4 separate regions of the Homo sapiens genome follow, and regions 2, 3 and 4 are each reported to be linked to region 1. The links are microRNA targets in miRTarBase. Many come from high-throughput screens and were not tested one by one. Region 1 holds a microRNA gene; each other region holds the end of a gene's coding sequence.

Region 1 (3,483 bases):
TCCCTCACACGTGTTCCTTCCTACTTGCATTGTACTCAGTCCTCATGGCTTGCATCTGGAGGCTATGGGCGGGGGAGTGCTTTGAATATCTATACGTGGAAAGCCTTGTTTTTTACTTTTTAAGAAAGGGTCGTTAAATTCGTGCTTTGTAGACCTTCAACAGCTCATCAAGGGCTACTCTCCACCTCCTTGCTTAAAAGCCTCTTCTGATGGGTAAGTGCTTCCACTTGCGATCGCCGCCTTGCCGCATCCCCTCAGCCTGTGGCACTCAAACTGTGGGGGCACTTTCTGCTCTCTGGTGAAAGTGCCGCCATCTTTTGAGTGTTACCGCTTGAGAAGACTCAACCTGCGGAGAAGATACCATTTTGATTGGGTGAGGGGGCGGGTAGCAGGATGGCCCTAGACCCTGCCTATGGCCGTTTCCTCGTGATATAAATTTCTTGGCCGGGGCTCTTGCAGATGGAGCTGCTCACCCTGTGGGCCTCAAATGTGGAGCACTATTCTGATGTCCAAGTGGAAAGTGCTGCGACATTTGAGCGTCACCGGTGACGCCCATATCAACGGATGCCGTGGAGCTCGGTCTTCTGCAGGAACTAAAGAGCCTGTGGTTTCGATTCCCAGCCGGAAACTGTCTTGGGTACAGGTCCCTTACAGCGTCTGGCTGTAATGGCTCCGGAAAACCTGGGGAAGGGAAGGGGGCCTCCTGGGCTCTCACCTGACACAACTAAGGGAATCTGGGTTAGATGGTGAAAGGAAGAGAAGGTTCAGAGGGCGGCTGTGCGCCTGCGCCGGGCGCGGCGGCTCACACCTGTAATCCCAGCACGTTGGGAGGCCGAGGCAGGCGGATCACGAGGTCAGGAGATCGAGACCATCCTGGCTAACACGGTGAAACCCCGTCTCTACTAAAAATACAAAAAATGAGCCGGGCGTGGTGGCGGGCGCCTGTAGTCCCAGCTACTTGGGAGGCTGAGGCAGGAGAATGGCGTGAACCCGGGAGGCGGAGTTTGCAGTGAGCCGAGATCGCGCCACCGCACTCCAGCCTGGGCGACAGAGCAAGACTCATTCTCAAAGAAAAAAAAAAAAAAAAACAGCAGCTGTGACCAAGGGGCTGTATGCACAAAGAAAGGAATGCTTTTTGCTGTTGGTGTTATAATTGATATGTAACTTTCCTCTTCCCCCATAGCAAGCAAGTTTATTGCTGACATTTAACATGTGCTTGGATGATTGGAGGCCAACCTCTTGTAGGCAAGAAAGTCACAGTGATGGCAGATCCTCGCGAGGAGCTCATACTGGGATACTCAAAATGGGGGCGCTTTCCTTTTTGTCTGTACTGGGAAGTGCTTCGATTTTGGGGTGTCCCTGTTTGAGTAGGGCATCACGAACCATCCTGCTTCAAGGGAGCCTGCGGGTCTGACTGCAGCTTCAGCTATGACCTGGAGTTCCCGGGCTTCTCTGCGGGGCACCAGTCTGTATGCTCCATTTTAGATAATAAAAATTGGCATATTCTGGGGTGGGCAGGATACGGGGTTCACCTGCAGATGAACAGGGCAGGAAAAGCTTGATGGGGTGTCGGGGGAATCTGGTTGGCCTTAAAGGGAATTTGGGGTCCTGTTCCTGAATTTGGTAGGCAGCATGCATGTAAGGCTTGAAGTGGGTTTGGCCAGAGCATGGGCTGGAGTGCTTCCACCCTGCTACACGGACAATGCCACAGTCTCACTTTTCCTAACTTTTTTTTTTAATAAAATGTGAACAACATCATGTGTTTCTGGTCTATTGGGTTCCTCTGCCACCCACAAGTGCTGGGATTACAGGCATGAGCCTCATGTCTGGCGTTACTGAACCTTCTTCTATGACCCAAGTACATTGCCTAAAAATACTTGTCAGTATTTTGTGCTTCCCTTCTACCCCTGCTAGAACTTAGAGTTATGCTCTTTGAGAGTTCTGCTCTTTAAACTTCAAACAAGTTTAAAAAGTAAGGCCGGGCACAGTGGCAGCACTGCCGAGGCCGACGCAGGCTGATCATGAGGTCAGATCAAGACCATCCTGGCTCACACGGTGAAACCACATCTCTACTAAAAAATACAAAAACATTAGCCGGGCATGGCGGTGGGTGCCTGTAGTCACAGGCTGAGGCAGAAAGGGCATGAACCCGGGAGGTGGAGCTTGCAGCCAGCCGAGGTTGTGCCACTGCACTCCAGCCTGGGTGACAGCGATAACTGTCTCAAAAAATAAAAACCACCCAGGCTGAAGTGTGGTGGCACCATCACAGCTCCCTGCAGGCCTGAGCTCCCTAGATCAAAAGATCTTCCCATATAAGCCCCCCCTCACCCCACCCTTAGTAGCTGGCACCACAGGAGTGTCCCCGCCATGCTCCACTAATGTTTAGTAGAAATTGGGGTCTCATACATTGGCCAGCTTGGTCTGAAACTTAGGGGGAATCAAACATCCCTCCTTTAGTAGAGATGGGGCTTTACTGTCTTGCCCTGGGTGGCCTCCCTGGGATGATGGGTGTGAGCCACAGTGCCAGGCCTAAGTTCATATTTGGAAGGTTTTTTTGCTTCAGATGGTCTCGTGCTCTCGCTCAGGTTGGAGCGCAATGGCGCAATCTTGGTTCACTGCAACCTCTGCCAGCTTAAGCGATTCTCCTGCCCCCGCCTCCCAAGTAGCTGGGATTACAGGCATAAGCCACCACGCCTGGCTAATTTTTTGCATTTTTTAGAGATGGGATTTCTCCACGTTGGCCAGGCTGCTCTGGAACTCCTGACCCCAGGTGATCCACCCACCTCGGCCTCCCAAAGTGCTGGGATTATAGGCGTGAGCCACCACGTGGGGCCTTCAGTAGGTTCTTAGTTGCTGTTTGCCCTATCACTGGTTTCCGGGTCTGCTGGCCACTATCCCCTGTAAGTTTTCCTATCCCCTGTAGGTGTTCCAAACCCTTGCGGCTGCTTTGCCCACTCCACAGTATCTGAACTGAAGTAAGATCTCAAATTCAAGGGAGTTTTGTTTTGCTATTTGTACCCGCAATTCATAAAGCAGTTGTAGCCTCTGTCCCAATACCGCCACCACTGGTGGGGAGTCCGCCACGGTAACCAGTAAGACTTCTCTTTATATTTGACCTACCTGGGCCTCCTGTCATCTTTTCTACGGGCAGCTTGGGGATTGTTAGTTGAGGGTTTTTTGTTTTTGTGTTTTTTTTTTTGTTTTTTTTTTTTTTTAAAGAGATGGAGTCTCGCTCTGTCGCCAGACTGGAGTACAATGGCATGATCTTGGCTCACTGCAACTTCCACCTCCCAGGTTCAAGCGATTCTTTTGCCTCAGCCTCCCGAGTAGCTGGTATTATAGGCACCCACCACCATGCCCAGCTAATTTTTTTTGGATTTTTAGTACAGATGGCGTTTCCCCATGTTGGCCGGGCTGGTCTCACTAAACTCCTGACCTCAAGTGATCCACCCACCTTGGCCTCCCAAAATTCTGAGATTACAG
Region 2 (3,000 bases), not on the chromosome of region 1:
AGGATATTGAATTTCTCCTACTAGGGCAATTTATTATCTATTTAGAGATGAAAAAAGACTTTAAAGCAGTACCACAGTGCAGGCTCATCAACTTTGGGGAGTGGGAGAGGGGGAAGTGGGGAGCTTATTTTTAGAATGGTAAGTTTATAATGGTAAAAATAACTTTTGACTAACAGAAAACTTTATATTAAAGGACGGACAGTCAGGGGACATCCCAGGAAAAAATTGTTTCCCGAGGATCAAGATCAAAATGAACATACAAGTTTATTATCATCATCATCACAAGATGCAATTTCCATTGCTTCTTCTATGCCACCTTCACCCATGGGTCACTACCAAGGGTTTGGACACACTGTGACTCCCCAGACTACACCTACCACAGCTAAGATATCTGATGAAATCCTTAGTGATACTATAGGAGAGAAAAAAGAACCTTCAGATAAATCCGTGGATTCCTGAACAGTATGGAAAAGCAAACTGTGCAACTACTACATTATATCATTACCTGGTATCCCATGGATTTTGTGCTTGGGACAGACCATAAATGATGGAAAATGTCAACACAAAAATAGCTGAAAGCCAGGTACAACTACTGCATTTATATATGTAAGTTTTGTATATCAAAAATAATTGGTCTAAATTTCCTAGACTTAGACTTGATTTCTTAACATTAGGGTATCGCATACTCAAATGGTAGACAATGACCCCAACTAAATCTTCCTGATGTTACACTGCTTTATCAAGAGGATGGACTTTTTTTTTTTTGAGACAGACAGAGTCTTGCTCTGTCACCCAGGCTGGAGTGCAGTGGCGCAATCTCGGGTCACTGCAAGCTCTGCCTCCCAAGTTCATGCCATTCTCCTGCCTCAGCCTCCCAAGTAGCTGGGACTACAGGCACCTGCCACCATGCCCAGCTAATTTTTTTTTTTTCAGTAGAGACAGGGTCTCACCATGTTAGCCAGGATGGTCTTGATCTGACCTCGTGATCCGCCGACCTCGGCCTCCCAAAGTGCTGGAATTACAGGCGTGAGCCACTGCGCCTGGCCAAGAATGGACATTTTTTAAAAAAACATCAGTACTTCCTACCACTGCTGCATGAGTATAATGCTCCGGAATTATCAGAAAGCATAATGCAGAAATACGAATTAGTGGAACTTAATCATGTGCCATATAAGCTTACCTAACAAACAGTTATATCCCTATTCCTCAACTGAATGTCTTTCAATAAATAAGAATTTATCATTTATTTTCTGCAACTTTTTTATGTCTCATTCTTTAAACATTAAAAACCCTTAATATTTTAACAAAAATTTCTTGATTAGAGGCACAGTGAAAAAGAAGTCAAAAAAAAAAGTTCTACTTTTCATCAGTGCTATTAAAGGTGGCAGCAAATGTAAATCTTGGCTGAATGGTCTTAATTACTCATTAAACCACAGTCAGAAAGACATATAGGTGCTATTTGGGAAAACTTTTTATTACCTAGGATGGGGTTTCTCTAATTGCTAATCACAACCCCACTGGGTCATGTTTGACATTTTATAATGAAAATAAAACAGAAAGTGCCATAGTATGTTACAGAAAGCAAAGATGAGTATTGTTTCTCAAAGCCTTTGCTTTATGTATTTATACACATACTCATTCATATCTATCTATATATATAGAGAGAGATAGTGGTTCACAGTAATCATACAAAGTCTTTATTCCATCCACTATTATAAACATTTCTATTAAAACTAAAACTGGGCTCTATGTAAAAACCCCAAAGATACACACACAAAAAAAATCTGTTTGTTAGAACTCAAGTGAATTCAGTAAAGTTGCAGAATACAAAATCAACATACAAAAAGCATTAGCATTTTTATACATAAATAATGAAAATAATGACCTAACTGAAAAATTAAGATGCCATTTATGATAGCATAAAAAAAATACTTACTTAGGAATAAATTTAACACCAAGGCAGTAAAAGATCTGTATGTACACTGAAAACTATGAAACACTGATGAAAGAAAGACACAAATAAATGGAAAGGTATCCCGTGCTCATGGATCAGAATAATACTGTTAAAATGGTCACACTACCCAAAGCAATTCAGAATCAATGCAATCCTATCAAAATTCCAATGGCATTATTTACACAAACAGAAAAAAATCCTAAAATTCATATGTAACGATAAAAGACCCTGAATAGGCAAAAGAATACTGAGGAAAAAATGTTGGAGACATCACATTTCCTAATTATAAATTATACTACAAAACTATAGTAATCAAGACAGTATGGTACTGGTATAAAAACACATACACAGGCCAGTGGGACAGAAGAAAGAGTCCAGATATAAATCCAAACATACACAGTCAACTAATTTTTGACAAAGACACCAAGAAGACACATCGGGGAAAGAACAGTCTTCATTAAGTGTTCTTAATGAAGATGCTGGGAAAACTGCACTTCCACATGCAAAACAATGAAATCAGACCCTTATCTTAGACCTACACAACAATCAATTCAAAATGGATAAAAGACCTAAATGTAAGACCAGAAACTATAGAAGAGAACATAGGAGAAAAGTTCCTGGACACTGACCCTTGGCAATGATTTTTTGGATATCACACCAAAAGCTCAGTCAACAAAAACAAAAACAAATGTGACTACATCAAACCAAAAAGCTTCTGACAGTAAAAGAAACAGTCAACAAAATGAAACAGTAGCCTACAGATTGAGTAAAAAATATTTGTAAGGCATATATATGGAAAAGGGTTAGTATCCAAAATTTATAAAGAATTCATACAACTCAATTTTAAAAATGGGCAAGACCTGAAAAGACATTTCTCCGAAGACGACACACAGATGGCCAACAGGTATATAAAAGGGTGCTCAACATAATTAATCATCAAGGAAATGCATATAAAAACCACTCGAAGTACTACCTCTCACCAGTTAGGCTAGCTGTTATCAAAAAAAACAAAAGACAACAAATGTTGTGATGGTGTGGAATAAAAG
Region 3 (3,000 bases), not on the chromosome of region 1:
TGGCCACATTATGGAGGCCTTGAATAGAAAGCTCAATCATGATGTTCTCCACATGTGTACTTAACGTTTTTACTTATGTCGTTTCCATCTGTCTTTACTGTTCTAGGATTGCGGTGGTCTCCTGTCTGAAGGAGATAACCAAGGCTGCTACCCCTTGGATGGGCACATCCTCTGCAAGACCTGCAACTCTGCCCGCATCAGGGTGTTGACCGCCAAGGCGAGCACTGACCTTTAGATTCAGTCACCTGTTCAGCCGGCACTGAGAAGAACGAACACAAGAAAAAGATAAGAAATACTAGAGTAAAGGCCATCAAACTACGCGATAGTCTCTGTTCTTCATCTGCTATTAACCTTGCCTTAGAAACACATAAATTATGAGATTTTTTTTAAAAGTTGTTACCAAATACACATTTCACATTGAATCATGTAGGATCTTGATGGGCCTTTGTTCCCAAGGACTTCCACATTTTTGCACAGATTATGCTCCATCCCATTCACTTCTGCATTCCTGTAACTTTTAATCCCTATGTTTGTCTCACTTTTCATCTGGTTGAATGGCTTTTCTTAGTGTGGTATTTGCTGTCACATAGTTTTTCCTGGGTGAGTCTGCCAACTCACAGGTGCTTTTAGGCTTGAAATCTCCATCCTATCATTTCCGTTTTGCCTGTGACTGTAAAGAGTAGCCATTCTTTTCCCATGTATTGAAGAGGATATTCTTCTCTTGCTTTATACTACTCACGTCCTTGGGGAGGGAAATGCACAATTTTTTTTTGTTAGGCTGTAAAGAATTTAAGCTGTAAATTACATAAGTTAGAACAAGCCCAAATTTAATTTGCAACCATCAGAATTCAGAATCTATAGTGACCAGTGATCAAGGCTAATTGGAAAAGAGTTATCGGCCCATAGCTAATAAGTAGTGACAGACAACCAAGCTTCAATATTTTTCTAAAGAAATTACAGGTGGGATATGCTAGAAAAGGCATTTTGGGGTTATGTTTAAAAAAACATTATTGTCCCACAATATTACCTTAAGATTTTTCTTTTCCGCACTACCTGAACATTGTAATACAGACAAACTTGATTTCTTCTAGAAGATAACATTTTCAATACTGTCCCACTTCTCATCTTAAAAATATTGTCATGTTTATTCTAATATCCAACACAACTATCAAAATTGCCTTTTTCTCTAGAGGATGAAGGCTGTGAAAAAACCGTTCAAATTCTCTTCTTTTTCTTTTTTATTACCAGGTCCATTTTGCCTGACAATTGCAAATCAGAGCATACAAAATAAAACTGTGCAGTTTTGTTTGGTTTACTTTCAAAAGAGTAGAAAGCTTGAAAAGATTCTGAAACCACAGTTTCATTATTCTCATAATCCTTCTGCAACTGAAATTACATATTGCAGGAGACATTTTCATATCATCAATGTGACATTTACACCACACTTTCAAAGACAATCACTGAAACAAAAATTGTCTTTATGAGCTAAAAATATGCAGAATCTCTGCCTAGAATCTTTATTCAAACTTTTATTAGCCAGTGAAACACTTGCTTGCCAACTGCCAAGCCATACTTATTAAGTTCGAACATGTTTCACTTAAGGAGAGACACCTAGCTTAGTCATGGCAAGTTGCCATTTTGTAAACTAAGGATTTTGGACTGAGATTTCTTAAATCTTTCTTCAAATCTCCCACAAGTATATACTTTTAAATTATGGAGTATTTTAAGTCTACAAAAAGGTATAAATAATAATATAATGAATTCCTATATACCTAATACCCAGTTTAAGACACCAAATATAACAAGTATAATTACATCCTCCAATGTACCGTTTCCTTATTCCACAGATATCTTTTTCATTATTGTGAAGTGATGTTCAGATTTCTAGTTTTTTTTCTAGTTTTTAATTTTAACATCAGAACTGAAATAAAAAATTATGGATACGTGTTTTGAATTGCAAACTATTCCTCAGGAATTCCAATTAAATTTATTTTACTTGAATAGGAATGATCATAAAAGTGATTCTTTTTTTGTGACTAGAAATTCTTAAGCCGATGGTCACTATAGCTCATCCTTAATGTATGGCTCATTTGCTTTTGTCACTAAACGGTTTTGTGTTAGAACCACCAAAATTATAGCTTTTAAGAGCTTCCTTTGACCACTGTCTTTTTCTTACCCTAGTTCTCTTATCTTTGATCGTATATTTCTCATAATGTGAAATATGATGAGATTCACTTAGGGGCAGCATGTTAGTTTTGGGAGGCAATGTCAACTGTGTCTCTGAATTCCTGTCTTCCAAATTGAAGCCAGACCATGCTGATGACCTCAAGTAGCACTGACTATTTGACAATAGGGCTGATAATGTAATCGGCTTGAATTTTGACTTAGTAACTTTTTATGTAATACTTTCGGAGAAATTCTCTTTAGGACAAAGCAGAGAGTCCAATTTATTGAGGGATAGATTGTATCTCTTAAAGTGGTCATATTATTATTAATTTTGCCAAAAGAAGAAGAATTTATTGAATATTTATACTATAAAATGCAGTAACATTCTACTTGCTTATTACATTTAAATCCTTGTGTAACTGAATGTTTACATGTCAAGAGGAAAAGCTGTAAGAAAATGCTGTCACAGACCCATCCCTGTGGCATCGTCAGCAGAATACTGCTTGCTTACAATCTTTATTATGCATTCTTATAACATAACCTCAGAGTATCTTTACCAAAGGTTTTTAAAGTAAATCTCTTTTTAAGATAGACTTATTCTTTTATAATAATGAATGTGCACTCATACATATGTAGAAACATTTAGATTTAGAGTTTTTTTTTTCTTTCACAAGGTATAATAAGGAAAGGATCCTACAATATTTTATTCTAGGGTTTCTTAAATATATGATTTATATTACTGTCTTTTCTATTAATCATTTGATTTAAACAATGCCAAGTCACTCTTTTTTAGTTGCATGAAATTTTGCCTGCAACAGAGAGAAAAAGATTGTA
Region 4 (3,000 bases), not on the chromosome of region 1:
TTGGTGTCATCCACACTGATTTTTACTGGATTTTATGGTTTTTGAAAAGCTATTTTCCAGTGCCATGGTTTTGTAATCCTACTTTTCAACTTTCTGTTAGAGCTCTAAGTTATTTTACTTAGTACGAGGTAGTGTTTCTGGCATCAAAAGATAAATTTTAAATTCCTGCTTTTTCAAATTTGCGTATGATTTTTGCATATGATTTGTTTCAGTGGGTTCTTGGTGTGCTTTATTTTGTTGCAGGGAGAGGCTGAAGGCTGGGAAGAAGAAGGGGAGCTGAACTGGGAAGATAATAACTGGTGACAATAGATGTGAGTTAAACTTTAGGAAAAAGGATTCCCTTTTTTTAAAAAAAATCAATACCTCAAAAGCAGGCTTTGGGACAAGAAAACCCCAAAGTGGCCTGCTTTTCCCATCCCAGGAGCTCATTATCCAGTCTGTGCCAACTGAAGTAGGAGACTGACTGTGAGTGCTGGCTAAAAGCCCTGGGTGGTGAGGCTCACAGTACTGGTTTCCAGGAGGAAGAGCCTTTGTGCATTTGACTGAGGCCAGTTTCTATGAAGAGCAAGTAGCTGAGGAGAGGTCGAATTTACTGCTTTTTCCAGGACAATTCTGGAAGTAAAGAAAATGTAATTCAAGCTGGTTAGCTTAATTTTGTGCCATTCTTTAACATAAGAGTAAGCTCTATTATGAAATACAACTTTAAAAAATTTTAGCTATAAATTATATAAATGATTTTAAATTGCTGAGGTTTCCTTAGGCAGCTTATTTATTTGTTTACAGTTAGACTATCTGAGTAAATGGTTCTTTGTGGACCTAGGCAGTTCCTGACTGTTCCACATGTAGTACATTGTACCAAAGTTCTTAATAAGAATATTCCCCACAATCCTGTTCTCTAAATGTCAAATAAAGATTATTTTCACTAGATTCAACTTTACAAAATTTGTTTTATATCTGTTAGAAAATGTACAGACATAAGTATTTTCAGTTGACAAAGCATCAAACCCAGTTCTGCCTAGTGATAAGTTTCACCCTAGAGTATGTATGTAACGTTTTAGCTTATCCATCCTTTCTTGGAGCGCCTCCATTTCCATTGAAAGCCAGGCTGGAGCAGGACCCTTTTGGAGTAGTGACTCAGTTGCTTCCAAAGCCCCTGCTATTGTATGCAGCGCTGACCTGTACTCTTCTTCCCAGGGGAACTCCTGACGAGCTCTTTTTGCATAAGGCTGGAAAAAAAACATAAGTAATATCACAATATCCATTCTAAATATAAAGAACCTTCCTTTTGGACTGGAGTAAAGCTTACATGCAAATTTTATTCTAGTCATTGGATCACAAGGGTAGGAGGATGCACCCCAAAACCCCTACACAGTCATCTAGAAAAATATGTAAAGGCATTTTGGTTTATCATAGCAATTCAGAGTGCTACTACCAGTGTCTTAGTTTGTATGTGGTATACAACAAGTATCCTGTCCCAAAGGGCTCCCAATGAGAAGTGCTGCATAGTCCAAGCTTACATGTCTTATAAACAAGTTCATAAATGTATTTTCTTTTTATGAGAGTTTGACTAAAACTTATCAGAATGTTGTTCTTCATGAATTACTACTATACTAATTACTATACTAATAGTGCTCAAAACAATATTTTGAATATCCTTATTGGTGTCAAATTCTGCCTTTTAATAAGTAGATGTGATCTTCAGTTACTGCCAAAAATTATTAGGAGACTCATTTGATTAATAAGGCAAGGAATCAAACTAAACATTTAGGAGTAAGTTTCTTTCATTTTCTTCTGTGGTTCAGTAAAGACTGCATTTATAGCATCACTGGTACAATATGTAACTTCCCTTAAAGGTTACTACCAATAATTCAAACATACTGAAAGAATATATTTGATATGGTGTAGTCCCACTTCTTAATTTTAAAAGCAACTACCATAAAACAGAATTTTACATGTCTAGATCTATTTGATTTGAAATTCAGCATAAGGCTGGAAACCACACTGGTTTGTTTCGTCAGTAAGTAAAAAGGGCAGAATTTGCCTTGTTAAAGTTTGGCCCCTATTGAAATCAGCCCATACCTGTAAAGATGACCTCTTTGCTTCTTCTACAGTCACATTAGCAAAGGGTTCCCAGAAAATACCTTTTTCCTGTTTCACACGTTCCACTTTGGCAGCTTCAGTTTCATCTACAAACCCAGTCTGCCAGGGACCATGAAAAACCAAGCAAATAGCAACATGTTAGCACTCTACTAGATATGAAATGGCCACATAATTTAAGTGCTGAGTGTTCAACCATACTAGGCAAATTCTGGAAGTCACATGGACTGATCTATAAATACTCTTAGTATAATCTGGATTAAATCACTCTACTGTGTTCTTCCTTACAAAATAGTTAGTTATAGAGTTGTCTTTGCAGGAAAAAATGATAGTCTGCTAACCTTTACTGTATAAGCTAAGAAACTGGCAACAGCAGTGTATACACATGTACTTAAAATCCAGCTTAGATGTAATATAAGTAGGCCAAGTGTGGTGGCTCATGCCTCTAATCCCAGGACTTTGGTGGGAGGAATGCTTGAGCCCAGGAGTTTGAGGTTATAGCGAGCTATGATCACACCACCACACTCCAATCTGGGCGACAGAGCGAGACTCTGTCTAAAAAATAAAGTTCAGTGAGTCAAGTGGGCCCATTTCACCTAAAAAAATATATATGTAATATATGTAAAATATATAACGTGCATCATTACATGTAATATATCAAATAATTCAGTTTCTCCTGGTAGTCTAAATTTGTGGTTTAACAGTTCCACTAGTATTTCAATTAACTATTATTTCCTCACACTAAGTTCCCAAGTATGCATAGACATAGGAACCTTGTGATTCAAAATTTTGGTTTTAATTGTAAAAACAGGTCTTGGCTGCAAAGAGAATAAAAAAGCCATGCCAAAAAAAAAAAAAAAAAAAAAAAAAAAAGGGCCCTGAGCTTACCCTGGCTTGGGAGGC

Evidence for each region. The annotated mature microRNA hsa-miR-373-5p reads ACUCAAAAUGGGGGCGCUUUCC and lies in region 1 at 1,297-1,318, shown strand. An mRNA with a match to its seed (bases 2 to 7 or 8) in the 3' UTR can be bound and repressed. Matches are read on the target gene's strand: a 7mer-m8 pairs with bases 2 to 8, a 7mer-A1 pairs with bases 2 to 7 and ends in A, and an 8mer does both.
Region 2: the mRNA of TMEM184C is a reported target of hsa-miR-373-5p. Seed matches in the 3' UTR shown: 8mer at 762-769.
Region 3: miRTarBase lists LPP as a target of hsa-miR-373-5p. The part of its 3' UTR that is shown has no 7-base or 8-base seed match.
Region 4: the mRNA of SCYL3 is a reported target of hsa-miR-373-5p. The part of its 3' UTR that is shown has no 7-base or 8-base seed match.

The regions. Positions count from the first base shown.
Region 1 is chr19:53,787,414-53,790,896 of GRCh38, forward strand. MIR373 (microRNA 373) reads left to right here and starts at 1,292; the gene lies at 1,292-1,360. It overlaps MIR371A (microRNA 371a), which reads left to right and starts at 262; the gene lies at 262-328. MIR371B (microRNA 371b) reads right to left here and starts at 329; the gene lies at 264-329. It overlaps MIR372 (microRNA 372), which reads left to right and starts at 477; the gene lies at 477-543. It also overlaps LOC124904767.
Region 2 is chr4:147,633,976-147,636,975 of GRCh38, forward strand. TMEM184C (transmembrane protein 184C) reads left to right here. Exons shown (of 10, transcript NM_018241.3): 10 at 194-2,746. The coding sequence ends at 459. Among named protein-coding and RNA genes, the nearest start is that of TMEM184C, 18 kb to the left of the region's middle.
Region 3 is chr3:188,874,245-188,877,244 of GRCh38, forward strand. It overlaps LPP (LIM domain containing preferred translocation partner in lipoma), which reads left to right. Exons shown (of 12, transcript NM_001375462.1): 12 at 107-3,000. The coding sequence ends at 235. Among named protein-coding and RNA genes, the nearest start is that of TPRG1-AS1, 72 kb to the right of the region's middle.
Region 4 is chr1:169,851,016-169,854,015 of GRCh38, reverse strand. SCYL3 (SCY1 like pseudokinase 3) reads left to right here. Exons shown (of 13, transcript NM_020423.7): 13 at 244-3,000. The coding sequence ends at 303. It overlaps FIRRM (FIGNL1 interacting regulator of recombination and mitosis), which reads right to left. Exons shown (of 25, transcript NM_001320047.2): 24 at 2,080-2,199; 25 at 1-1,226. The coding sequence ends at 1,029. Among named protein-coding and RNA genes, the nearest start is that of SCYL3, 41 kb to the left of the region's middle.